2 separate regions of the Homo sapiens genome follow, and region 2 is linked to region 1. The links come from fine-mapping of genetic effects on gene expression. A gene starts in region 1. The other region holds a variant in brackets. All regions are shown on one strand. Distances are between the middles of the regions.

Region 1 (12,489 bases):
TTTTTATGGCTGCATAGTATTCCATGGTGTATATGTGCCACATTTTCTTAATCCAGTCTATCATTGATGGACATTTGGGTTGGTTCCAAGTCTTTGCTATTGTGAATAGTGCCACAATAAACATACGTGTGCATGATGGGACGTATCTCAAAATAATAAGAGCTATTTATGACAAACCCACAGCCAGTATCACACTGAATGGGCAAAAACTGGAAGCATTCCCTTTAAATCTCACTAAATCTAAAGTCATCTCTATTTAATATTTTATATGTATATTTGAGATGGAGTCTCACTCTGTCACCCAGGCTGGAGTGCAGTGGCACAATCTTGGCTCACTGCAACCTCCGCCTCCTGGGTTCAAGCGATTCTCCTGCCTCAGCCTCCCAAGTAGCTGGGATTACAGGCACCCGCCACCAGGCCCAGCTAATTTTTTTATATATTTAGTAGAGACAGGGTTTCACCATGTTGGCCAGGCTGGTTTTAAACTCCTGACCTCAAGTGATCCACCTGCCTTGGCCTCCAAAAGTGCTAGGATTGCAGGCATGAGCCACTGTGCCCGGCCTACATCAATATTTTTTATTTCTACAACTTCTACCTTAAAAAATAATAATTTTCTTTTCTTATTTGATAGATTGTATTCCTTTATCTCATTAAGCACTTTAAGTGTATTTATTTCTAACAGTTTTACATACATTAATTTATTTAATTCTAACAGCAACTCTATGAAACAGGTGCTGTTTATCACCCCAATTTTGCAAAGCAGAAAATGAGGCAAAATGTGATTATGTGACTATTCCAAGGTCACACAATTAGTGATTTGTTGATTGAGATTTAAAAGCAGAAACAAAGGCATTTGAGCTGTTATGGGCTAAATTGTGTAATCTCAAAATTCATACGTTGAAATCTTCACCCCCAGTACTTCAGAATGTGACTATATTTGAAGATAGAGCCTTATTTATTTATTTATTTATTTAGAGATGGAGTCTCACTCTGTTGCATAGGCTGGAGTGCAATGATGCAATCTTGGCTCACTGCAACCTCCACCTCCCAGTTTCAAGCAATTGCCCCAGCCTCAGCCTCCTGAGTAGCTGGGATTACAGATGTGTGCCACCACATCCAGCTAATTTTGTATTTTTAGTAGAGACGGGGTTTCATCATGTTGGTAAGGCTGGTCTCGAACTCCTGACCTCAGGTGATCCACCTGCCTCAGCCTCCCAAAGTTCTGGGATTACAAGCGTGAGGCACTGTGCCTGGCCAATGGGGCCTTTAAAGAGGTAATTAAAGTAAAATGTGGTCATACGGGTGGGCCCTAATCCAATAAGATTGGTGTCCTTATAAGAAGAGAAAATTAGGACACAAAAGCGTGTGCACACACAGAGGAAAGACAGAACACAGAGAGAAAGCCACCACGTGCAAGCCAAGGAGAGAGGTCTCTGAAAAACAAATCTGCTGATACCTTGATCTTGAACTTTCAGCCTCCAGAACTGTAAGAAGTTTCTGTTGCTTAAGACTCCCAGTCTGTGGTAATTAGTTATAGCAGCCCTAGCAAACTAATACACTTACCTTCTTCACACACAAACATTTCTAACCTTTTCCTCCATCCAAGGTCAAGTACTTATGAATGCCAAGTTTGCTAAAACTTGTTATCATCTGACTGAGGCCAGGAGAGTCTTAATGGTTGTACTTTGAAATCCCAAGAAGGTAATTATGTCACACACCCACTTCTGAAATGAAACGCATACTTAGTTTTTAAGGTCTTTTTAAATATTGTTCTATTGTTTCTATTTTCTCATGTGTCAACTCTCCCATTTTTGTGGGATGTATTTCTTTATGTTGGACTTTCTCAAATGTTTTACAATTTGGTATTATCATGTTTAATAAATTATATTCTTCATATTGGTCTTCCTTAAGACCAATATGTTTTATAATTTCTGCCTATGAGCTCATCTTCAATGGGAATTATCCTTTCAGTGTGGTGGTGGAATTGTTCCTACCAGTGACCTAGATTGTGGCGACCTCCCCCTAGTTGCCTCTGCATAAGTCTTAAGGGGTCACAAATTCTCAAATTTTTTTCTCCATTTCCATCTTGGGATTTTTGTACATCATGAGTACATGTGTGGATCCAGCTTGTTCTCCACATTCTTGTGGGTAATTCTATTTCTATCCATGGCCTGGGACATTTTTTTACTTCTGATCTATAATCAACCTCGTCAAGCTTCCTGCTGTGTTCAAGTTCAGAGGCTTTGATTCTTGTTTCCCCATAACCATTAATTTATAACAAACACCATAAGGAATGTATGCTACAGTCCCTAAAGTACTCAGCTTACCGAGGTAAATATAGAATTATCTCTTCATTTGTGGCACCTGAACATGTACTTTTCTTGTTTTGAATTGAATTACATATTTACATTACAAAAAATATATATGCAGCATTTCTGTATGTTCCAGAAAATTTATGGGATCTCGGGAAAGCTTTAACCCCTTTAGATCTGGCTTCCTCATCCTAAGACTGTAGGGAAGATTAAACATGTTAATCCTTGTAAAGCACTTAGAACAGTGCCTGGTTCACAAGTACTCAGTAGGTGTTTTGATAAGTATTCCTGCTTCTGTTCAGTTCTTTTTCTTAACCAGGCCTGGTCCATCATCTTTATATATTTAAATTTTACTTTTCAAATAACCAAAACAATAACAATTAAAACATTTAGATTCTTCTCCTCTTCCCACCCCTTAAAGCAAACTTAACATGAGAAGGTATTTTATCATCTTAAAAAAAAAGTCTTATAATGAATTAAACTCATTATATTAATTATTCAATTCCTACAAATGCAAAATTATGAAAATTCCTTTGAAACAATTGGCTTATGACTACTAAGCTCATTAATGATCTATCAAAATTATCACTCAGAAAAGCATCACAAAAGCTTCGGGTCAAGGACACCCCAGGCCCTGAAAGGGATTTCTCAGTACCATCCCAGAATATTTCTATAGCACAACAGCCGACAGCCATTAAAAACAGTGAAGAACTTCAAAGTGTGCTAAATTGGAAAACCACCAAAACAGTAATACAGAACAGAACATACATGTTGAGATCCTGCCTAAGTAAAACAAAGGATATAGGTGTGTGTGTGTGTGTGTGTGTGTGTGTGTGTGTGTGTATGCACACAGACATGCAAGGGAGAGAGAGAGAGAGGGAGAGAGAGGCAGGGAGGTAGAGATTATGTATATATAGAACATTTCTGGAAGAACACTCATAAAACTGTTAACGTAGGTTATATAAAATGTTTTTGAGCAAGAAAGTGACAAGATCAGATCTGTGTCAGCAGATTCACATGGCTACTGAGTGGGATGGGGTGCTGAGGGCTGGAAGCAATTGGGAGAGACTGAAGCCAAGAGACCCATTTAAAGGACATTGCAATTGTCAGGTAGGAGTTGATGGGGGCCTGTTCTGAGGCAGTGAGATAGAGCAAAGGACAAAAAAGGAAATTAGATTCACTTTAGAAAGCCACCCAATTGCAGCCCCAGGGCCTAGCACAGTACCTACTGGTACTAGGTGCTCAATAGGAAAGAAATGGTCTCCTGCGTGAAAGACTTATAATTTTAATTTTCAAAGTCATCCCACTGGGCACCTGAACATGACAACCCCACTGGCCCCTTCACCCTCTTCTCACGAGTTCATTCCCTCAGCCCTGGGCCTGGGGAGCTGGGTTGTGGGGACAGGTCCACAGGCAGGTGAGTCCAGGGCTCAGGCCTCTACCTGTGCCCCTTGCTGGCCCTGCCCACCCAGGAGGTCCCTGCTGCATCCCCATGGTCCCACTCAGATCTATTCCTACACGCACACACACACACACACACACACACACACACACACACACACCCGCTACAAACACTTACATTTAGGAATTGCTTAAAATATATATTTTTAATGAGTGAAACAATGGAAGAGAGTGAGCAGAAGGATGAGGGTCTCATAAGTGTGGCATCTGATGATAGGTTGCAGGAAACAGCCAAAATTCCCAGAAGACAGAGCACTCAGCGGACACCTCTTCAACCTCGGCATGCAGGAAGGCTCTGTTGGAAGGCTTTGGTGGCAAGGGACAGAGAGGGGAAAGAGGGAGTTAATGCACTTATTTTAATATCTCTTGAGCCTAATGCGGGATCTGGTTTATAGTGCCCTGCTCAAATGTTTGTTGAATGAATGAAGGAAAGGTTGGATAAATGGGTGGATGGCTGGGTGGATGGCTGGATGGATATATGGGTAAATGGATGAGTGGATGGATGGATGGTGGATGGATAGATGGATGGGTGGATGGGTGGATGGATGGCTGGATGGATATATGGGTAAGTGGATGAGTGGATGGATGGATGGTGGATGGATAGATGGATGGGTGGATGGGTGGATGGATGGGTGGATGACTGGATGGGTGGATGGGTGGATGGATGAATGGGTGGGTGGATGGGTGGATGAGTAGATGGATGGGTAGATGGATGTGTGGATAAGTGGGTGGATGTGTGGATGAGTGGGTGGATGAATGGATGAGTAGGTGGGTGGGTGGATTGGTGGGTGGATGGGTGGGTGGATGGATGGATAGATGGTGGGTGGATGGATGGATGGGTGAAGGGATGGATGGTGGATGGATGGATGGTGGATGGATGGGTGGATAGATGGATGGGTGGATGGGTGGATAGATGGATGGGTGGATGGGTGGATAGATGGATGGGTGGATGGATGAATGGGTGGGTGGATGGGTAGTTGAGTAGATGGATGGGTAGATGAATGGGTGGATGAGTGGGTGGATGAATGGATGAGTAGATGGTTGGGTAGATGAATGGGTGGATGAGTGGGTGGATGAATGGATGAGTAGATGGTTGGGTGGATGGATGGATGGATGGATGGATGGATGGATGGATGGATGGATGGTTGGATGGATAGATGGTGGGTGGATGGATGGATGGAAGGGTGGGTGGATGGATGGGTGGGTGGATGGAAGTGTGGATGGGTGGATGGATGGGTGGATGGGTGGATAATGGATGGATGGATGGGTGGATGGATGGGTGGATGGGTGGATGATGGATGGATGGGTGGATGGATGGTGGATGGATGGATGGACGGATGGATGGGTGGATGGGTGGATGGATGGGTGGATGGGTGGATGGATGGGTGAGAGAATAGATGAGAGACTACTTCAATCTGGCTTTCAGGGACAAAACTGAAACCCATGTTTTGTGGCAATCAGATGGCTGTGGGAACTTTCAAAGATGGCCCTCAGGGACCCCCACCCCTGGTATTGTGCCCTGTGTAATCCCCTACCTTTGAGTGTAGGCTGTGCCTGATGACTTCCTTCTAACGAGTAGAATATGCCAGAAGTGATGGAATATCACATCCTTGAGTATATTACAAAAGACTGACCTACCTCTTCCCAGACTCTCTCCATAGCCCTCTCTGATGCAACGAGCTGCCAGGGCGGAGAGGCCCACATGGCAAAGGACTGATAGTGGCCACAGCTGACAGCTGAGAGGGGCTGAGGCCTTCATCCTACAGCCCTAAGAAACTGAATCCTGCCAACACCAGCAGCTTGGAAGTGGATCCCCCCTAGTGGAGCCATGAGATGAGACCTCAGCCCCTCCAACACTTGGATGGCAACTTATGAGAAACCCTGAGCAGAGAACCCAGCCAAGCAGTGCCCAGACTTCTAGCCACAGAAACTGAGATGACAAATGAGTGTTATTTCAAGCCACACACTTTGAGTTAATTTGTTTCCAGAACAGATAGCTAAAACAAACGCTGATTTGAGTTTTATATAAAGATGGATGATGTAGCAATTAAACTTGGCAAATGATGGTAGTGGTTTTGATACTAGTTGGCTTGGGTTTGAATCCTGGATCCCCAACTTACTAGCTGTGGGGCTTTGAGCAAGATGATCAATTTCTTGAGCCTCTGTTTCTGCATCTTTAAAATGGGCATGATTCTCTGGTCATAGTGACAACACAAGGATTACATAGATTATGTAATGTACTTAGCCCAGTGCCTGTCATGTAGTAAGCACTGGATTAAAGGAAGCTATTAGAGGGAATAATAATAATAATAATAATAATAATAATAATAATAATAATGGAGCAAGATGCCTTACAAAGCAGTGAGTGTTCCATGCCTGGAAGTGATTGAGTTAAGGCCAGATGGCCATGGCAGGAAGTGACTAGAACCCTGGAGGACCCCAAAGCCTCTCCCAAATCTCAGATTTGAGGGCCGTGCAGCTGGCTTGGCCAATGCTTGGGGTTGGTGGGCCAGCTGAGCCACGGGCCCCTCTTGGTGTGACCATCAGCATTATCTTGCACTGGGCGGGCGGCGGGTATTCCAGCCATGCCCAGCCTTCCCCTCAGATAGCCCTTCCCTCCTGCACCACTTTTGTGTCAGGTATGTGGCTGCCACCCTGGCTCAACCCATGGGGCCCAGGAAGGTAAACACCCAGCCGGGAAGTGATCGTTATGGGCTCGTGGCCAGCTATGGGCCAAGGCAGGTCTAAAGGTCGGGAATGCTTACCAGTGAAGCTTTTCCAGGACAGGACGAAGTTTTTGGCTGTGGGCTCTCTGGGACAGAGTGGAGCGCCTGTGGATTTAGCCGGGGACACACCATCCTGCTCGCAGGTGCCTGGACAGGACAGGGGACGAGGGAGGAACACTCTCTGAGGAAGCCCAACTCCTATGAGCTCCTCTCTGGCAGGTGAGAGAATGGTTTTGGTATTTTTTAAAAAAATAAAATGAGATAAAACAAGAGAAGGAACAGAGGCTACCGCTAGGACAGGTAGGAAAGGAGATTACCACCCATCCATTCACTGAGGAGGAGCCCCCAAGAGAAACAGCAGCCCTGGATTCCACCCGAGGGATCCTGTCTGGTCTCGGCTTCAGCACTGCCCCTCCTGGCACTCAGTTTCACCATCTGGGAATCAGGATAAGGACTCCTTCCAGGCGCTCTTCCATTATGGCTGTGGGGTAAGTGAGATCAAAAGCAGGAATGGCTGCATAATTGCAGGGCCCTGTGCAATATAAAAATGCAGGGCCCCTTGTTAAAATAGTAAGGCTTTCAAAAGGACAACAACACAGCATTAAAGCAAGCCGGGGCACCTTCTAAGAACAGGGCCCTGTGACTGCCCAGGCCCCACACCCACGACGCCAGTCCTGATAATGAGCGTATATGTAAACGGAAGTGCCCTGATTCCTGTGTGCCATGGCACAAATCTCAGGGTCAGGAAGTGCACTTGGGAAACAGAAGTCATAGTCGTGAAGTGACAGCCCACTGCGCTTTAGCTCCCCCAGCACTGCCCCCTCCGCTCAGGGGCCCCTTTCAGAAAGACAGAAGGCCCTACCCCTCAGAACCTTCCTGATTTTTGCATCTGGCTGGCCTCAAGCCACAGCACGGTGTGACTGAAATGTGTAGGGACACAGTTTTCTTGGATGTGAAAGTGGTAGGTTCTTATTGTCTATCTTGATTTAAAATTTGGGACAGTCACACAGTCTCTGGCTGTGTAGAGGTGGGACTTGTGTTTCCTGGGCTCGTGACAGCTCTGCTATGTTCCATTGACTATCAGTGTATTTCTGCTTTTTGGGAAAATCCTTAATGCAATAAGGCCACTGGTGGGAATGTTCCAGCTTGGACACTTGCCATGTGTCTTTGTCCTCCCTGCCCCTTCTCTCTTTCTCTCTCTCTCTCTCTCTTTTTCCATTTAGGCTTCCCCTTTGCCCATGTCTCAGGCTGCCCCTTGGCACTGCTTAGCTCTGAGGAAGTAGAAGCCAGGGTCCCCTTGGGGGTCAAGCTTTCTGGTCCATGAAGGGAGACCACAGACCACCTCCCTCCACCGCACTCTCCTCCCACATCCCTTTCTGGAGCCCAAATTGTCATGGGAACCCCTCCCAGGGAGGGGATCCCCACAGGAAAGCCAGGGGTTGATCCAATGACAGTGTGAGTAACATTCCACAGCTTTCTGCCCCAGTGGGGCTGGGGACACAGATGAGGCTAGACATGGGGGAAGATGAATTGCTTTAAGAAGAGCTGATGCATGCCTGTAGTCTCAGCCACTCAGGAGGCAGAGGCAGGAGGGCTGCTTGAGCCCAGAAGTCATGCGGTGGGCTATGATCATATCACTGCATTCCAACCTGGGCAACCTGGCAAGACTCTGTCTCTGTTCCTTTTTTTTTTTTTTTTTCATTGCTTTAAGAACTTCCCTTGGCCTGTGGGAGACCGGAAGCTTGTACCAGTAACAAAATAGCCCAGATGTTGTGGGGCCACCCAGAGCCTCTCAGAGGAGACCAAACCTAACCACCCAAGCCTGCTGGCTCTACCAGGGGCGCAGGAGCTGCTGTTTGTCCCAAGAAGCTGGTGAGCCACCAGCACCAAGTCGGACATCCCGTCTCCCAAGATGACGTCCCTTCCCCATCTACATGGGCCCATTGCTTCCCGAGTAAGGAGTCAGCTCTGATGCTCTGAAGTCACCCCCCAGCACAACCCCAATGGCAAAAATTCCTTTACTCCTTCATAGATAATTGCTGTGCACAGTGTATGTGTGAGGCTTTGAAGTGGGGCTGGGGACACAGATGGGACAATGGTGGCCCTCAGGCTAGTGGAGATGAAGCGATGCTGTGTCCCACACCCCCGAGGCCAGGCCAGAAACCCCGCTTGGTGAAAAGAGCACACCAGCCCTCTCACCCCAACAACGGTGATAGGATCCTGAGGCTGAGAGGCACCGTGGCCCAGCGGAGCAGGGGGTTCCATCTCTGAGCCTGGATGGGCTGCCTCTTTTCAGACCCCCCTTCTCCCCGCACCTAAGCCCCCTCTGCTACCATGATGGTGTCTTCAGGAGGCTGCTGGGCCTCAGGAAAAATTCCTTCCCTTGGCCTGGGACCACCTCTCCCCACCTTGGGAGAGGTCAGACCAGGGGGTGGAATTCTGCCTCCAGACTGGAGGACCCACCCCAGAAGGCTGAGGACTTCAGCCTTACTCCTCCTCCCTTTGTTTGGCAGCCATCCTGGAGGCCAGGGCCGTGGGAGACCACATGGGGTCTGAGCACTGAGGAGGGGCCATTTGCTGGAGCACCCTCTGTGGGCTGCTTTTGGGAAACTAGCTCAGGTGGTTGATTAAGGACCTGGGAGCCTGGGTGAGGCCATCTCACAATCTTCCTGCCTCAACTCACTTTGCCTGTGGACAAGGAAAAAAAAAAATCACACGTTCAAATGAGGAGGATGGGCACCATCAAAGGGATGGATGATCAGCAAGGCCTGCATGGAGGAGGTGGCCTCTGAGCTGGCCATCATTCAACAATCTTCCATCACTTATTAATGATTTTCCAGGAGGAGGAGAAGAACTGGGGGTGTGGTTTGATGTATTATAAAGCAAGCATTACTACCTTGAAAATAAGGTAGTAATTCTTTTCACACTCACTCAGAATGAATGCTCCAGGTTCTCTAAATAGCATACGTTCACAGATAGCACATTCCAGGTGAAGGGACAGCAGGGTTTTAGCAAAAGGGAGGGAGCCCTGCAGTAAGGGTTGGGCCAGTGGAGGCAGAGACAGGGGAGGCATGAGGTCTGTTTAAAAGATGCCAGCTGGGCGTGCTGGCTCACACCTGTAATCCCAGCACTTTGGGAGGCTGAGGCGCATGGATTACCAGAGGTCAGAAGTTCAAGACCAGTCTGGTCAACATAGTGAAACCCCATCTCTACTAAAAATACAAAAATTGGCATGGTGGTGGACCCCTGTAATCGCAGCTACTCAGGAGGCTGAGGCAGGAGAATGGCTTGAACCCAGGAGGCAGAGGTTGCAGTGAGCCAAGTTCACGCCATTGCACTACAGGCAAGGTGACAAGAGGAAGACTCCAATTCAAAAAAAGAGAGACAGGACAGGTGGAGTGGAGGGAAGGTGGAGGGGATGGCCCAACCCAAGATGCCAGGACCCCAGAGGTCCACAGAGATGAGAGTGGGGGTCTGGATGGCCAGCGTGTCCCATGGGAAATTCATCCCTCACTTCTGCACCCTGCACCTGGTGGCTGTGCCTCAGTTGCCTTCACTTTGGGCTGGAGCTTCATGCACCAGCACCATGTCTCCCAAAGCTAGAAGCTCTGACCTCCAATCATCCAGGAGTTTTACTTTTTTTTTTTTTCTGTAGAGATGGGTTCTCACCATCTTGCCCAGGCTCATCCCAAACTCTTACACTCCAGCAATCCTCCCACCTTGGCCTCCCAAAGTGCTGGGATTAGAAGAGTGAGCCACTGCACCTGGCCCCAAGTTGCTGATGAGTTTAAAAATGGGTATATGAACCGGGTGCAGTGGGGTGTCCTGTAGTCCCAGCTACTCTGGAGGCTGAGGTGGGAGGATCGCAAATTCAGATCCAGCCTGGGCAAAATAGCAAGACCCCCATCTCTAAAAATAAATAGATCAATAAAAAGGAGTTTTGGGCAGCAACATGGATAGAAGTGGAGGCCATTATGTCAAATGAGATAAACCAAGCATAGAAAGACATATATCTCGTGTTCTCACTCATATGTGGGAGCTAAAACTGTGAAGTGGGTCTCATGATGACAGACAGTAGACTGCTGGTTACTGGAGGCCAGGAAGTGGAGCAGGGACGCAGGGATGAAGGAGTGAAAAAGAATAAAGATACTTATTGTCACTGAACTGCACACTTAAAAATTATGAAGATGGGCCGGGTGTGGTGGCTCACACCTGTAATCTCAGCATTTTTGGAGGCCAAGGTGGGCAGATCACTTGAGGCCAGGAGTTCAAGACCAGCCTGGCCAACATGGCAAAACCCTGTCTCTACTAAATATACAAAAATTAACTGGGCGTAGTGGCACCTGTAATCCCAGCTACTCGGGAGGCTGAGGCAGGAGAATCACTTGAACCAGGGAGGTGGAGGTTGCAGTGAGCCAAGATCAAACCACTGCACTAAGCCTGGGCCACAGAGCAAGACTCCGTCTCAAAAAAGAAAAAAAAAAAAAGATGCAGATGGTAAAGTTTTTTAAAAAAAGGAAAAAGAAATATCTATTGAAAAACTGAAAAGAAACAGAGGTGCCAATTCACTATTAGTTAATGAGTATGTTTCCTACCAGAGACAAATCCTTCAAAATATAGGCTCTGCAGAAGGGCAAGCAACTTGGACAGTGCCCTTCAAGGGATGAGAGAAGCTTGGGAACCACAGAGGCAGTGACAGGGGATATGGAAGGCAAGCTGGGCCTAAGGCCCTTGACCCCCAGGTCCCGCCCCAAAGTGGCCAGGGTCAGTCCCAAGGTGCTGACTTTTGGAGTGTTGCTCTATCTTATGTACAAGTTAGTGCAACCTGCTTGTATCAGTCTTTCAGGCTACATGACAGTGAACTCCATGAAGGCCAAATCCCTGGAGAGTACCTCATGCAGCCCATCAACAAGCAATTGCTGGATGCAATTGCTCTCTGGGCCCAAAGTGAAAAGATGGCAAAACTGCCTGCTCCTCTCCCAAGCTCTCCACCATCATTTCAGACCCCCACAACTGCCTCCATACCCTTTACCGCAATCCACATAAGCAGATCAAGAAAACTCAATTTCCTACTCTCAGCTGATACACTCAGTGTTGCTGAGCGAAAATAGATTCCTATTAAATCCCACCAATGGGGTGAAAAATTTCCAAGTATTTGAAGTTTTTAGAACCCTCACATATGGGTTTTATTTTTCAGGATGCTCCCAAGTCATAAATCCACTCATGAGAGTGAGGACAAAGATCAAGACAGTTTTGCTCTCATCTGAGTGAGAAAAACATTCCTTGGTGGATTCTTGAGCGTTGGAGGAAAGCCTTCCTTTCTGCCAAGTTCCTTTTTAGGAAATTAGCTTTGGACTTTAAAATGATTTTAAAGTTGTTTCTGGATTGAAAAGGGCATCTGGCGCCTGGACAACTTTTCCTGGTGCCTGAGATATCAGAGCAGTCACTTGCAACTTTCTACAGATTTCTGGCCTCTTTGGAAGCATTCCTAAATCAAGAGCAAAGTCATTCGCCATTGGCCACCTTGGGTTCCAAGTCAAGGGTAAGAAATGGAGCTCAGGGTCATAATGAAGTCGTTTGGATGCTCAATCTAAAATCAACAGGCTCATCTAGGCTGTGTTTGGGAAAACATTATTATAGCTAATTTGTGTATTCATTGGAGAAATATCACAGAAAATGCCAAAATTAAGTAGCATGCATAGACAGCCAGCATCTTCTCATGTGAGCAGTGCTAGGGTCCTGCCAGGTTAAAAGCCCCCGGTGTGCATCCTCCTCCCTTTCTCAGCCTTCACTAGGCACCAGTTTGCGCTGCTCTTCTCTGTGAGTTGTCCCCACTGGAGACCCACGATCAGCCTGAGCAGGGCTCAGACACAGAGCTACCTGGCGGCTACCTGGCGGGCCAAAGGGTTCTTCCTAGAAACCTAGGCTGGGCCATTATCTACCTTTGTTCCCCCTCCAAATACTCTGTGATCGTTAAAGCTGTTTTCTTG
Region 2 (12,489 bases), 110 kb after region 1:
CACCACAACACCTGGCTAATTTTTTATATTTTTGGTAGAGATGGAATTTTACCATGTTGGCCAAGCTGGTGTCGAACTCTTGACCTCAGGTGTTGTCCCTGCCTCGGCCTCCCAAAGTGCGGGGATTACAGGTGTGAGCCACCGTGCCCGGCCCAAAGATGCAAACATTTAAAAACATGTTTTTAAAAAATGAGTAACGTGAATGTTCAAGATATATAAAGTTTTTAAAAAAGCAAAATAGAACATTTCATCTATACTGAGAAGGCATAGAAAATAAAGATTTTTTTTTTACTTTCTTTTATGCATGTTTGCAAATTCCAGTGAATCAGATGTAGATTTTTAAAAATAAATGAGGCTGACCTAACTGATGTGCAATCCAGTTACATTTCGTAGTTGAATAATGTGAGCACGCAGGCTTCAGTGTGTCACTCTGATTTTTTATCGTCTTTTTATGTTAAAGACCTTCATGTGCTTCCCTTTTGTTAATATCTGGTAACCGACACAAAACCGGGATCTTCAGATTGCATGTTCCAAATCAGTGACTTCTGTATCAGATCTTTTTTTCAGTCTATTTATCAAAGCAAGACAGGCAACTTGGACTGCCAGTACAATCTGTTGTCAGGAACTCTCTTTTTCTTTAGCTACAAAAGCAGCAGGTCGTGCTGAATTACTGTTCACACAAGGAAAACACCCTATAATGATGGCCTTTTGGTAGGCTTAATCAGTCACAGGGGAGCCAGGATTTCAGAACAAAATGCTATAGTATGTTTTCCTCCTTTTTTTTTTTTTTTCTTTTTTTTCTTTTCTTTTTTTTTTTTTTAATTGATCATTCTTGGGTGTTTCTCGCAGAGGGGGATTTGGCAGGGTCATAGGACAATAGTGGAGGGAAGGTCAGCAGACAAACAAGTGAACAAAGGTCTCCGGTTTTCCTAGGCAGAGTGTTTGTGTCCCTGGGTACTTGAGATTAGGGAGTGGTGATGACTCTTAACGAGCATGCTGCCTTCAAGCATCTGTTTAACAAAGCACATCTTGCACCGCCCTTAATCCATTTAACCCTGAGTGGACACAGCACATGTTTCAGAGAGCACTGGGTTGGGGGTAAGGTCATAGATCAACAGGATCCCAAGGCAGAAGAATTTTTCTTAGTACAGAACAAAATGAAAAGTCTCCCATGTCTACTACTTTCTACACAGACACCGCAACCATCCGATTTCTCAATCTTTTCCCCACCTTGCCCCCTTTTCTATTCCACAAAACCGCCATTGTCATCATGGCCCGTTCTCAATGAGCTGTTGGGTACACCTCCCAGATGGGGTGGTGGCCGGGCAGAGGGGCTCCTCACTTCCCAGTAGGGGTGGCCGGGCAGAGGGGCTCCTCACTTCCCAGTAGGGGTGGCCGGAGGGAGGTGCCCCTCACCTCCCGGACGGGGCGGCTGACCGGGCGGGGGGCTGACCCCCCCACCTCCCTCCCACACGGGGTGGTGGCCGGGCAGAGGGGCTCCTCACTTCCCAGTAGGGGTGGCCGGAGGGAGGTGCCCCTCACCTCCCAGACGGGGTGGCTGACCGGGCGGGGGGCTGACCCCCCCACCTCCCTCCCGGACGGGGCGGCTGGCCGGGCGGGGGGCTGACCCCCCCCACCTCCCTCCCACACGGGGTGGTGGCCGGGCAGAGGGGCTCCTCACTTCCCAGTAGGGGCTGCCGGGCAGAGGCGCCCCTCACCTCCCGGATGGGGCGGCTGGCCGGGCGGGGGGCTGACCCCCCCCCACCTCCTTCCCGGACGGGGCGGCTGGCCAGGCGGGGGGCTGACCCCCCCACCTCCCTCCCGGACGGGGCGGGTGGCCGGGCGGGGGGCTGAGACCCCCACCTCCCTCCCAGACGGGACGGCTGACCAGGCGGGGGGCTGACCCCCTCACCTCCCTCCCGGACGGGGCGGCTGGCCGGGCGGGGGGCTGACCCCCCCACCTCCCTCCCGGACGGGGCGGCTGGCCGGGCAGAGGGGCTCCTCACTTCCCAGTAGGGGCGGCCAGGCAGAGGTGCCCCTCACCTCCCGGACGGGGCGGCTGGCCGGGCGGGGGGCTGACCCCCCCACCTCCCTCCCGGACGGGGCGGCTGCCGGACGGAGACGCTCCTCACTTCCCAGACGGGGTGGCAGCCGGGCGGAGGGGCTCCTCACTTCTCAGACGGGGCGGCTGCCAGGCGGAGGGTCTCCTCACATCCCAGACAGGGCGGTGGGGCAGAGGCGCTCCCCACATCTCAGACGATGGGCGGCCGGGCGGAGATGCTCTTCACTTCCTAGATGGGATGGCGGCCGGGAAGAGGCGCTCCTCACTTCCCAGGTGGGATGGCGGCCGGGCAGAGACGCTCCTCACTTTCCAGACTGGGCAGCCAGGCAGAGGGGCTCCTCACGTCCCAGACGATGGGCGGCCAGGCAGAGACGCTCCTCACTTCCCAGACGGGGTGGCGGACCGGCAGAGGCTGCAATCTCCGCACTTTGGGGGGCCAAGACAGGCGGCTGGGAGGTGGAGGTTGTAGCGAGCCGAGATCACGCCACTGCACTCCAGCCTGGGCACCATTGAGCACTGAGTTAACGAGACTCCGTCTGCAATCCTGGCACCTCGGGAGGCCGAGGCTGGCGGATCACTCGCGGTTAGGAGCTGGAGACCAGCCCGGCCAACACAGCGAAACCCCGTTTCCACCAAAAAAATACGAAAACCAGTCAGGCGTGGCGGCGCGCGCCTGCAATCGCAGGCACTCGGCAGGCTGAGGCAGGACAATCAGGCAGGGAGGTTGCAGTGAGCCGAGATGGCAGCAGGACAGTCCAGCTTTGGCTCGGCATGAGAGGGAGACCGTGGAAAGGGGAGAGGAGAGGTGAGAGGTGAGAGGAGAGAGAGGGGAGAGGGGAGAGGGGAGAGGAGAGAGGAGAGAGCTGTTTTCCTCCTTTTAAAGTAAAAATTATCTAGCTGAAATGGGAAAGAGTTCCTGCATAGGACTTTCTCAGCTTATTAATAGTTTGTTGTTTTTGTTTGTTTTTTTATTTAGAGACAAGGTCTCACTCTGTGGCCCAGGCGGGAGTGCAGTGGTGCGATCACAGCTCACTGAAGCCTTGAACTCCTGGGCTCAAGCTGTCCTGCCTCAGCCTCTCAAGTAGCTGCAACTACAGGTGTGCACCACCACTCCAGGCTAATCTTTAAAAATTTTTTGAAGAGATGGGGTCTTGCTGTTTCGCCTGGGCTATTCTCCAACTCCTGGGCTCAAGCAATCCTCCTGCCTCAGCCTCCCAAAGTGCTGGGATTATAGGTGTGAGCCACCATGCTAGGCCTCAGTTTTTGTTTTTTAATTTGTCCTGAAGCACTTGGTCCCACCCTTCTGGGATAGTGTTTTAGTTACTGTTTGAGAACCCAACAATTGGAGGAAATAATTAGGCATAGATTCAAATTAAAAGGTTGGGAAGGGGCTGGGTGTGGTGGCTCACGCCTGTACTCCCAGCACTTTGGGAGACCAAAGCAGGTGGATCACCTGAGGTCAGGAGTTCGAGACCAGCCTGGCCAACATGCTGAAACCTTGTCTCTACTAAAAATACAAAAATTAGCCTGCCATGGTGGCACATGCCTGTAGTTCCAGCTACTCGGGAGGCTGAGGCAGGAGAATCACTTGAACCCAGGAGGCAGAGCTAGAGAAAGATGGACTTGCCACGGTCCCTGGTCTTGGTGGGCTGGGCGTGGAGCTGGAATGATGTGAGGCTCTCCAGGGGAGCAGGGACACACACTCATATATGCACAGCCTGCCCAGGCTGTGGGGTGTGGCTCGGTCCCCCCATGCCCAGACAGGACTAATGGCTTTGTCCTGCTGGGGAGCGAGAAGCAAGGGGCCCTGTGGTCACCTGATGCAGCCTAACCACAGGGCGGCGAATTGTCTTTTCTTTCGGTAGATGCTGGGTCTTGCTGTGTTGCCTGGACTGTAATTTTTACAGCTGTAAGTTGCGATGCAGCTCAGTCTGCATCTGTACAGCCTCTGACATACAGAGTTGTATTTTTGTTGTTTTCCAGCCTGTTTCACAACTTAAGCGTGTTTACTTTCCCCACTCCCAAAAGAAAATTGTGCATTTTAGAAAGAAATTACTTAGGATTTTAATATGATGGACCTCTATCCAAAAAATTACATTGTGATCATTCTTTAATTTACCAACTGTTACTGAATTATATATTTTTCTGTTTAGATTAAACCCTCAACAATTCAGCAGATGAGTCCTACAGTGGGAGACGGCAGGGAGTTTTTCTTGATGCTTTGAGGTGGACGTGGCCATTACCTAAAACGTCAGCTAGGCGTTAGAAAGCAAATACCAATACCTGTTTTAACAAAGTAGCAAAGTAGGCAGGTAGCATTTTTTTAAATTTATCTTTTGGTTAAAAAATGTATGCACCTGACAGGAAGTTCAAAAGGTGCAAAAGGACTCTCAGTGAAAGTCTTTCTCCCACTCCTGTCCTGGGCCACCCAGTTCCCTCGTCAGACACATATTCAGGTGTGTGTGTGTGTGTGTGTGTGTGCCCTCATGTCACACAAATGTAAACTAGTATTAAAATACTGACCATATCTTTCCATCTCCATCCAAATAGAGCACCCTCATTTTTGCAGTTTTCTGGGCTCCACTGTTTAGATGTTCCATAATGTATTTAACCTGTCCCTGTTGATGGATATTTGCAGTTGGAAATACCGGGTACTGAGAGTGTTCATTGCAGCATTATTTATACTCATGGAAGATTGAACATCTACACAGTGGAATGCTAAGGGAATTGCTAAGTGGGATTGTTGGGTGAAAGGTTAAATGTTCTTTAAATTTTGAGAGGGTATCGCCTAATTGCCTTCACACACTAGCCACATATGAGTGTGCTGGTCCCCTGCCACTAATGTGGTGCCTTACCCAGCTATTTTCTCTTTACCCAGTGTGCTAGATTAAACATTTTTTGTTTTGTTTTGTTTTTGTTTTGTTTTAAGACAGTCTCACTCTGTCACTTATGCTGGAGTGCAGTGGCGCGATCTCAGCTCACTGCAACCTCCACCTCCCAGGTTCAAGTGATTCTTCCACCTGAGCCTCCCAAGTAGCTGGGATTACAGACACCGGCCACCATGCCTGGCTAATCTTTTGTATTTTTAGTAGAGACGGGGTTTCACCATGTTGGCCATCGAACTCCTGGCCTCAGGTGATCCACCCGCCTGGGCCTCCCAAAGTATTGGGATTACAGGTGTGAGCCACCGCACCCGGCCTCGTTGTGGTTTTAACATAACATTTCTCTTGCCATGAGGCAGGCTGAACATGTTCTCAAGCATGTGTCTTTTTAAATTTACACACACTTATTTTAGCATGTAAACATTTTTGCGAATGATTTTATTAACAGGTCATCTTGAGAAAACGTAGTAATTGGCATTTGTGATGTGTGTGAGTGCCGAGGCTTGGGTTTGGGCCCCCAGCGCCTGCATCCCATGGCTGCGTTGAATATGTGACTCCCCTCGTCCCTTAGCAACCCAAGGGGTTAGCTGTCACTCCCCCATCAGACAGCCAAGCCCCCACTCCCCACGCTGCTCACGGGACCTGCTCAGTCCGGCCTCGAATTCACTAAAGACTGCGCTGCAGCGGGCTGGGCTCGGGCTCTGGCTCTGGAGTCCGACTTCATCATCATTGTCTGCAGAAGGAGGATAGCCTTTGAGGGGTTTCTTCTTAACTGGAAGCCTTTTAAAGTCACTTCCGTGCATCCTGATGCCTGCAGTGTAAATGACTGCACCAGCAGCAGGCACCGAGGCAACTTTGTGACCTTGCTGTTGAGTCATCCTGGGGAACAGAGGATGTGAATCACCCCAGGGCGGCTGCAGCAAGAGGACTCTGTGGGGCAGGAGCAGAGAGTGGAGAGCTTGGGAGCGCCCTGCGCCCCTGGCTCTGGCTCTGGCCCCAGCTGCTAGAGGAGAGAGAGGAGTGGGCCATGGTGATCCCCGTACCACACACACCCCAGCCACTGCCCTGCCGAGGACAGACTGAGGCCGGGTCTTCAGCGGCCCAGGTGGCCCTGATAGCTCCCAGCAGCATACTGGAGACACGGAGCCTGGATGGTAGGGCCTGTGCTGAGGTGTCACGGCGACGTCCCCACAGCCTCTAAGGGAGTCCCGGAAGGACGCCTTAGACCCTTGGCATTCTGCCTGGCCTTCTCTTCATCCCCTCCCTCCCTCCAGGCAAAAGCCAGTGAACTAAGTTGGGCTCCAGGCCAGTGCCCTGATGCCCAGGACTGGGGGTGACCTGTGTGGGGAGGGCCTGGCACACGGGTGGATGGGAAGGGACCTCGCAGAACCCTTGTGGGGAAGGGGCTACGTTTTGTTTCCTGGCCGTGAGGAAGGTGGAGGGCAGCCAGTGAGCCCGCCCTTCAGTCCACGGTCTGCTGGCCTTTGGCTCCGACCCCCGCAGATGTCACCCTGGTGACGCAGCTGCAACAACGCATCGAAGGTCACAGCATCAGAGACAGCAGTGATTTGTTAACACAGGGGTCGGGAGAAGCCAAAAAAACAACCCAAATCAGGCTGGAATGCACGGCCCAG[A/G]GGTCCACGGCGAACCCTGGATCATAAGGAGACCGTGTAGGTAAAGAGCGGGGAGGAGAAATCGCGCAGCCTCGAGCTTTGCTGAGGGTGGGGAACGCAGGGTTGATCCGAGTGCGGAGGCAGGAGTGGGACTCCGAGGACAGACACTGTAGTCCCGGCCGGCCAGGCAGCATGGCCCATGTTTGACCGTGAACTGCAGGACAAGCTGAACTGCCTTAAGTAACAGGGAATTGGGGCCCGCGGGCTGCGTAAAAGCCCGTCGCTCTTTGGGTGTTAGAGCTGGTAAAGCTTCCGCCTTTCTCCATCAGGAGCAGGTTGGCTTCCTGCAGACTTTTCTTGGTGTCCTGGTTCCTCTTTTGTGACCTCTTGCTGATGGGTCTCTTTTGTTTTTCAAATGTGTGACTTGAACAGGGTGGTGTAGGCGGCCCTAACTCCGGGACCTGGCTGATCTGAGGCCGCCGGACGTCACCACCCCAGAGCAGCCCCGTGGCCCGCGCTGCCTGAGAGGGGGCCTGCTCACCTGGCTTCAGGTCCTGGTCCTGGCCCCACGGGCAGCGTGGCTCCCAGTGCCTCTGTGGGTGATTGTGTGAGAGCATGTGTGTGTGTGAGTGAATGTGTGCATGAGTGTGAGAGCGTGTGTGTGTGAGTGAATGTGAGTGAACGTGTATATGAGTGACTGAGAGCGTGTGTGTGAATGTGAGTGAACGTGTATATGAGTGACTGAGAGCGTGTGTGTGTGAGTGAATGTGAGTGAACGTGTATATGAGTGACTGTGAGAGCGTGTGTGTATGTGAGTGAACGTGTATATGAGTGACTGTGAGAGCGTGTGTGTGAGTGAATGTGAGTGAACGTGTATATGAGTGACTGTGAGAGCATGTGTCTAAGTGAATGTGAGTGAACGTGTATATGAGTGACTGTGAGAGCGTGTGTGTGAGTGAATGTGAGTGAACGTGTATATGAGTGACTGTGAGAGCATGTAAGTGAATGTGAGTGAACGTGTATATGAGTGACTGTGAGAGCGTGTGTGTGTAAGTGAATGTGAGTGAACGTGTATGAGTGACTGTGAGAGCGTGTGTGAGTGAATGTGAGTGAACGTGTATATGAGTGACTGAGAGCGTGTGTGTGTGAATGTGAGTGAACGTGTATATGAGTGACTGAGAGCGTGTGTGTGTGAATGTGAGTGAACGTGTATATGAGTGACTGTGAGAGCGTGTGTGTGAATGTGAGTGAACGTGTATATGAGTGACTGTGAGCGTGTGTGTGTGAGAATGTGAGTGAACGTGTATATGAGTGACTGAGAGCATGTGTCTAAGTGAATGTGAGTGAACGTGTATATGAGTGACTGTGAGAGCGTGTGTGTGTGAGTGAATGTGAGTGAACGTGTATATGAGTGACTGTGAGAGCGTGTGTGAGTGAATGAGTGAATGTGTATATGAGTGACTGTGAGAGCATGTGTGTAAGTGAATGTGAGTGAACGTGTATATGAGTGACTGTGAGAGCATGTGTGTGAATGTGAGTGAACGTGTATATGAGTGACTGTGAGAGCGTGTGTGTGTGAGTGAATGTGAGTGAACGTGTATATGAGTGACTGAGAGCGTGTGTGTGAGTGAATGTGAGTGAACGTGTATATGAGTGACTGTGAGAGCACGTGTGTAAGTGAATGTGAGTGAACGTGTATATGAGTGACTGAGAGCGTGTGTGAGTGAATGTGTGTATGAGTGACTGTGAGAGCATGTGTGAGTGAATGTGAGTGAACGTGTATATGAGTGACTGTGAGAGCATGTGTGTGTGAGTGAATGTGAGTGAACGTGTATATGAGTGACTGTGAGAGCATGTGTGTAAGTGAATGTGAGTGAACATGTATATGAGTGACTGTGAGAGCATGTGTGTGAAAACCAAAGGAGACCCCTGACCCATCAGCAAGAGATCACAAAAGAGGAGCCTGAAGAAAGCCCAGGCTGGACCGGAGTTGAATCTTCACAAGGAATCCAGGCCAGGAATGGGCTTAGGAAAGCCAGGAAGTGTGACGTGAATACTGGCAGATAGCAACAGAGCTGAGAGCGCCATTCCCAGACCAAGCAGAGATTCAGACAGCCGGGTCCAGGCTACATGCGCATTCCCTGAGGAGGAGCTTCTGTAGTGACACGTACGTTCACACGCCCCCCTCATATGCACACATTCACACACACAGTCACATACTCTCATTCACACACATTCACACTCACCTTCATACACATTCACCCACTGTCACACACTCTCATACTCTTTCACACACATGCACACATTCACACCCACCTTCATACATACTCATTTACACATTCACACACAATGCATTTACACACACATCCACACATCCACACCCACCCTCATATTCACTCACACATGTTAACACACATACACCCATTCACACTCACATTCACACACACACATGCATTCACACACACATTCACTTACATGCTCTCACAGCCACACCCATATACACATTCACCCACAATTTCCCACACATGCACTCTCATTCCTTAATGCTCACACCCTGACTCGCGTATGTCTATGCACACATACACTCATTCCCACTCGCCCTCACAGGCTCACACTTCCTTCCACTACCCTGGGACGAAAGTGCCATGGGAAGCCAGTCTTGCTGTGTTCACAGCCGAGTGCCCAGTGCCTAGACCAGTGCCTGGTGCTCAGCAGATGCTCAGTGAGCATTTGTGGAACGAAGGAACGAACGAGTGAATGAATGAAGAGCGAGCAGAGCCTGGATCCCTCGTCAGCTCTATGCTGCCATGTAGAGGCTTAAATGAGAGCAAAAGTAATATCGATAAGGAAAAGATAGCCATATCGACATGACAAACAATTTGACATACAAAATGAAGACAAACATCCTGGAAGCTAAAATTCACAGGTGACGTTGCCTGTAAATGGATGAGGAGGGGTGAGAGTTCTGGGGAATGAGCCTCAGCCATACCGATTAGCAGGGATTCAGGCCAAGGCCCACAGCTGAAAGGCCCTACCTGCCATTTCCCCTGGCCCTGAAGATCAGGACAGAGATGCTGTCGGCCAGAAGATCCGGGTGATCCAGAGCCAGGGTGTCATCCCAGGTGTCTCTAGCAGGCATCCTTCAGGGCCATGTGGTTTAATGGCATGCTTTTCTGTGATGTGGCGCTGTGGGCATGGGGGTTTTCCCCTTGGTATCATTCGTATCAGTTTTGTGAGTTATGTTTGCTTGGAACTTGTGAGCTGTAACTGCTTCACATTTTCTTAGGAAACTTAAATTTAGCAGCAGGAAAATGAATTCATAACAGCATCTGTAGCTGAGAAGCTTCTGGGAAACTGGCTGCCCGTCATAGCCTCACTTTTGTGTCGGTGGACACTGGCCGACTCGGGGTCTGCTGCCAGTCAGCGCTGGGCTGCAGGTCTGCTGCTGTGAGGCCCGCTGCTGTGTGCTTGCTGTGGCTGCTTTTTAGGTAGATGAGGCAGATGCGACGTGGGGATGGCCACGGAGAGGCCACAGGCTCATTTCAGCGTCTCGTCTCTGACCGTCGCTGTCTCAAGTGAGGTGCTGCTGTGTGCTTGCTGTGGCTGCTTTTTAGGTAGATGAGGCAGATGCGACGTGGGGATGGCCACGGAGAGGCCACAGGCTCATTTCAGCGTCTCATCTCTGACTGTCACTGTCTCAAGTGAGGTGCAGACACTGGGGGCCGGGTGGGCCCTGGCTACTGATGGTGGTTCGGGGTCTGCAGTTGGCCGCTGGCCCTGGAGTGACATCAATGTGAACTCTCTGTGGGGTGTTCCCAGCTTCCAGATTCGTCCCTTATTTTAGAGTGCTCTGCCAGGTGGGTGGGTGGGCAGAGCTTTGCAGGGAAGCAGCAGTGAGAGCTCCTGCAGGCGGGCATCAAATGCCCAGCAAACCCCTGCGCTACCTGGGAGGTGGCAGCATCTCCACTCCTCCAGCATCCAGCCATGTGACTTTCTGGATGCAACTTCACTTCTCTGTGTCTGTTTCCTTTTGGTAAAATGGGAGCTTCTGTCTGTCCTTTCTGGGGGACCTGGGAGGATTAAGTGAAACAGCCTGCAAAACCCCACCACTCCAGGGCCCACTGTGTTCTGGGAACAAATGCCTCTAACCCTGGAGCTCCTGCTTTCATGCCAAAGCCCTGGGCCCTGGGTCAGGGCTCTGATGAGTGGAGAAACCGGAGGGCGGCCCTAAAAGGAGTGAGGCAGGGGATGGGCAGGACCCTGGGGAAGGGGCCAGACCCCCACCTCCACCCCCTACCCCATCCCTACCCTCACCCCTTCCCCCACCCCATCCCAACCCTCACCCCTCACCCCACCCCTACTCCCACCCTTACCCCTAACCTCACCCCCACTCCTACCCCCACACTCGCCCCTACCCTCACCCGCACCCCTACCTCACCCTTAACCCCACCACTACCCCCATCCTCACCTGTACCCTCACCCTCACCCCTACCCTCACCTCATCCCTACCTTTACCCTTACCCCCACCCTCACACCTACCCACACCCTCACCCCTATACCCACCGTCACCCTCACCCCCACCCTCAACCCTACCCTCACCCTTACCCCTACCCTCACCCCTACCTTCACCCTCACCCCTACCTTCACCCACGCCCCTAACCTCACCCTCACCCCTACCTTCACCCTCACCCCTACTTTTGCACTCACCCCTACCCCCACCCCTACCCCCACCCCCATCCCTACCCCCACCCCCACCCCTACCCCCACCCCAACCCCTACCCTCACCCCCACTCCTACCCTCAACCCCAACCTTACCCTCACACCCCTACCCTCACCCTCACCCCTACCTTCACCCTCACCCCTACCCCACCCTCACCCCTACCCTCACCCCCACCCTCACCCTTACCCCAGGCTCCTCACTGCTCTGTTTCCACCCCTCCTCTGTGGCCATAACAAATTACCAGAAACTGGGTGGCAGAGGATCACAGGATTGATTCTCCCACAGCCTGGGCAGGCTGTGCTCCCTCTGACAGCTCTGCAGAGGATCCTTCTGGCCAACTCCAACTGCTGGTGGCTGTATCAGTCCCATCTCTGTCTGTGCCTTCTCTGTGTGTCTGTGTCACATTATTAAATCTCCCTTGGCCTCTTTTATAAAGACACCCATTATTGGTTTGGGGCCAACCTTAACCCAGGATGATCTCATCTTGAGCTCCTTGACTCAATTATGTCTGCACAGACCCTTTTCCCAAATAAGGTCCCATTCACAGGTGCTGGGGTTAGGACATGGATGTAGCTTCTGTGGGGGCCACAGTTCAACCCACTCTGCTGTCCCTCCTGGGAAGCGACTGTGGGACCTGAACCCGCCCTAAGTATCAGAGGGTGACGGGGAAGAGGAAGGTGGGTCATTGGGTTGATTTGTAAACAAGGGAGGAAGGTGAGCCGGGATCTGCCACCTGCCCTTACAGAATGACCCATGAGATGCAGAACTGCTGTTAGATCCTAGTCAGCTATTCAGAGGCTCAGCAATCAGGTGATAATCATGACATCGAATAAAGGCACCTCCAGAAAATTGATCAGGTTATGGATTTCTTTCTCTCTTCCAAAATGAAAATCACCTTATTGGTTCCATTATAAAATCAGACCATGATATATGTTCATTGTTAAATTATCAGGCGATTCAAAAGGTAAAAAGGTAAACATCCCCCCAGATTCCACCCGTGACACTCGTGCTTGACACTGGCCGGTTTCCCCTGACGCTTTTCTGCTGGGCGTGGAGGAACAGGATTCCTCCCACCTGCTGACTTTCGCACCCACTAGCACACCCAGAGCATGGGCCAAGCCACCCTTGGCAGCTGTGCGGGCTCAGGTGTGTGGCTGACCTTTTTTTTTTTTTTTTAAGACAGAGTCTCACTCTGTCACCCAGGCTGGAGTG

Which allele goes with the higher level. Positions count from the first base shown, and alleles are read on the strand shown. Sizes are in standard deviations (SD) of each study's normalised expression.
For the expression in adrenal gland of the gene that starts at base 6,530 in region 1, A is the high allele of the variant in region 2 and G is the other (moderate effect, 0.64 SD a copy in GTEx).

What was found. PIP is the estimated chance that this variant, and not a neighbour inherited with it, causes the effect.
Region 2: its variant is fine-mapped to the expression of NGEF in adrenal gland (GTEx, PIP above 0.99).

Annotation. Positions count from the first base shown.
Region 1 is chr2:233,007,297-233,019,785 of GRCh38, reverse strand. NGEF (neuronal guanine nucleotide exchange factor) reads left to right here and starts at 6,530. Exons shown (of 15, transcript NM_019850.3): 1 at 6,530-6,718. LOC101928881 (a long non-coding RNA gene) reads right to left here and starts at 7,172. Exons shown (of 3, transcript NR_136325.1): 1 at 6,817-7,172; 2 at 6,539-6,646; 3 at 3,901-4,079.
Region 2 is chr2:232,895,491-232,907,979 of GRCh38, reverse strand. All of the region lies in intron 5 of NGEF (neuronal guanine nucleotide exchange factor), which reads left to right. Among named protein-coding and RNA genes, the nearest start is that of SNORC, 31 kb to the right of the region's middle. RefSeq lists enhancers at 1,988-2,632, 2,633-3,278, 5,241-6,440, 6,322-6,945, 6,946-7,571. The variant A/G (reference allele first, on the strand shown) is at 6,579.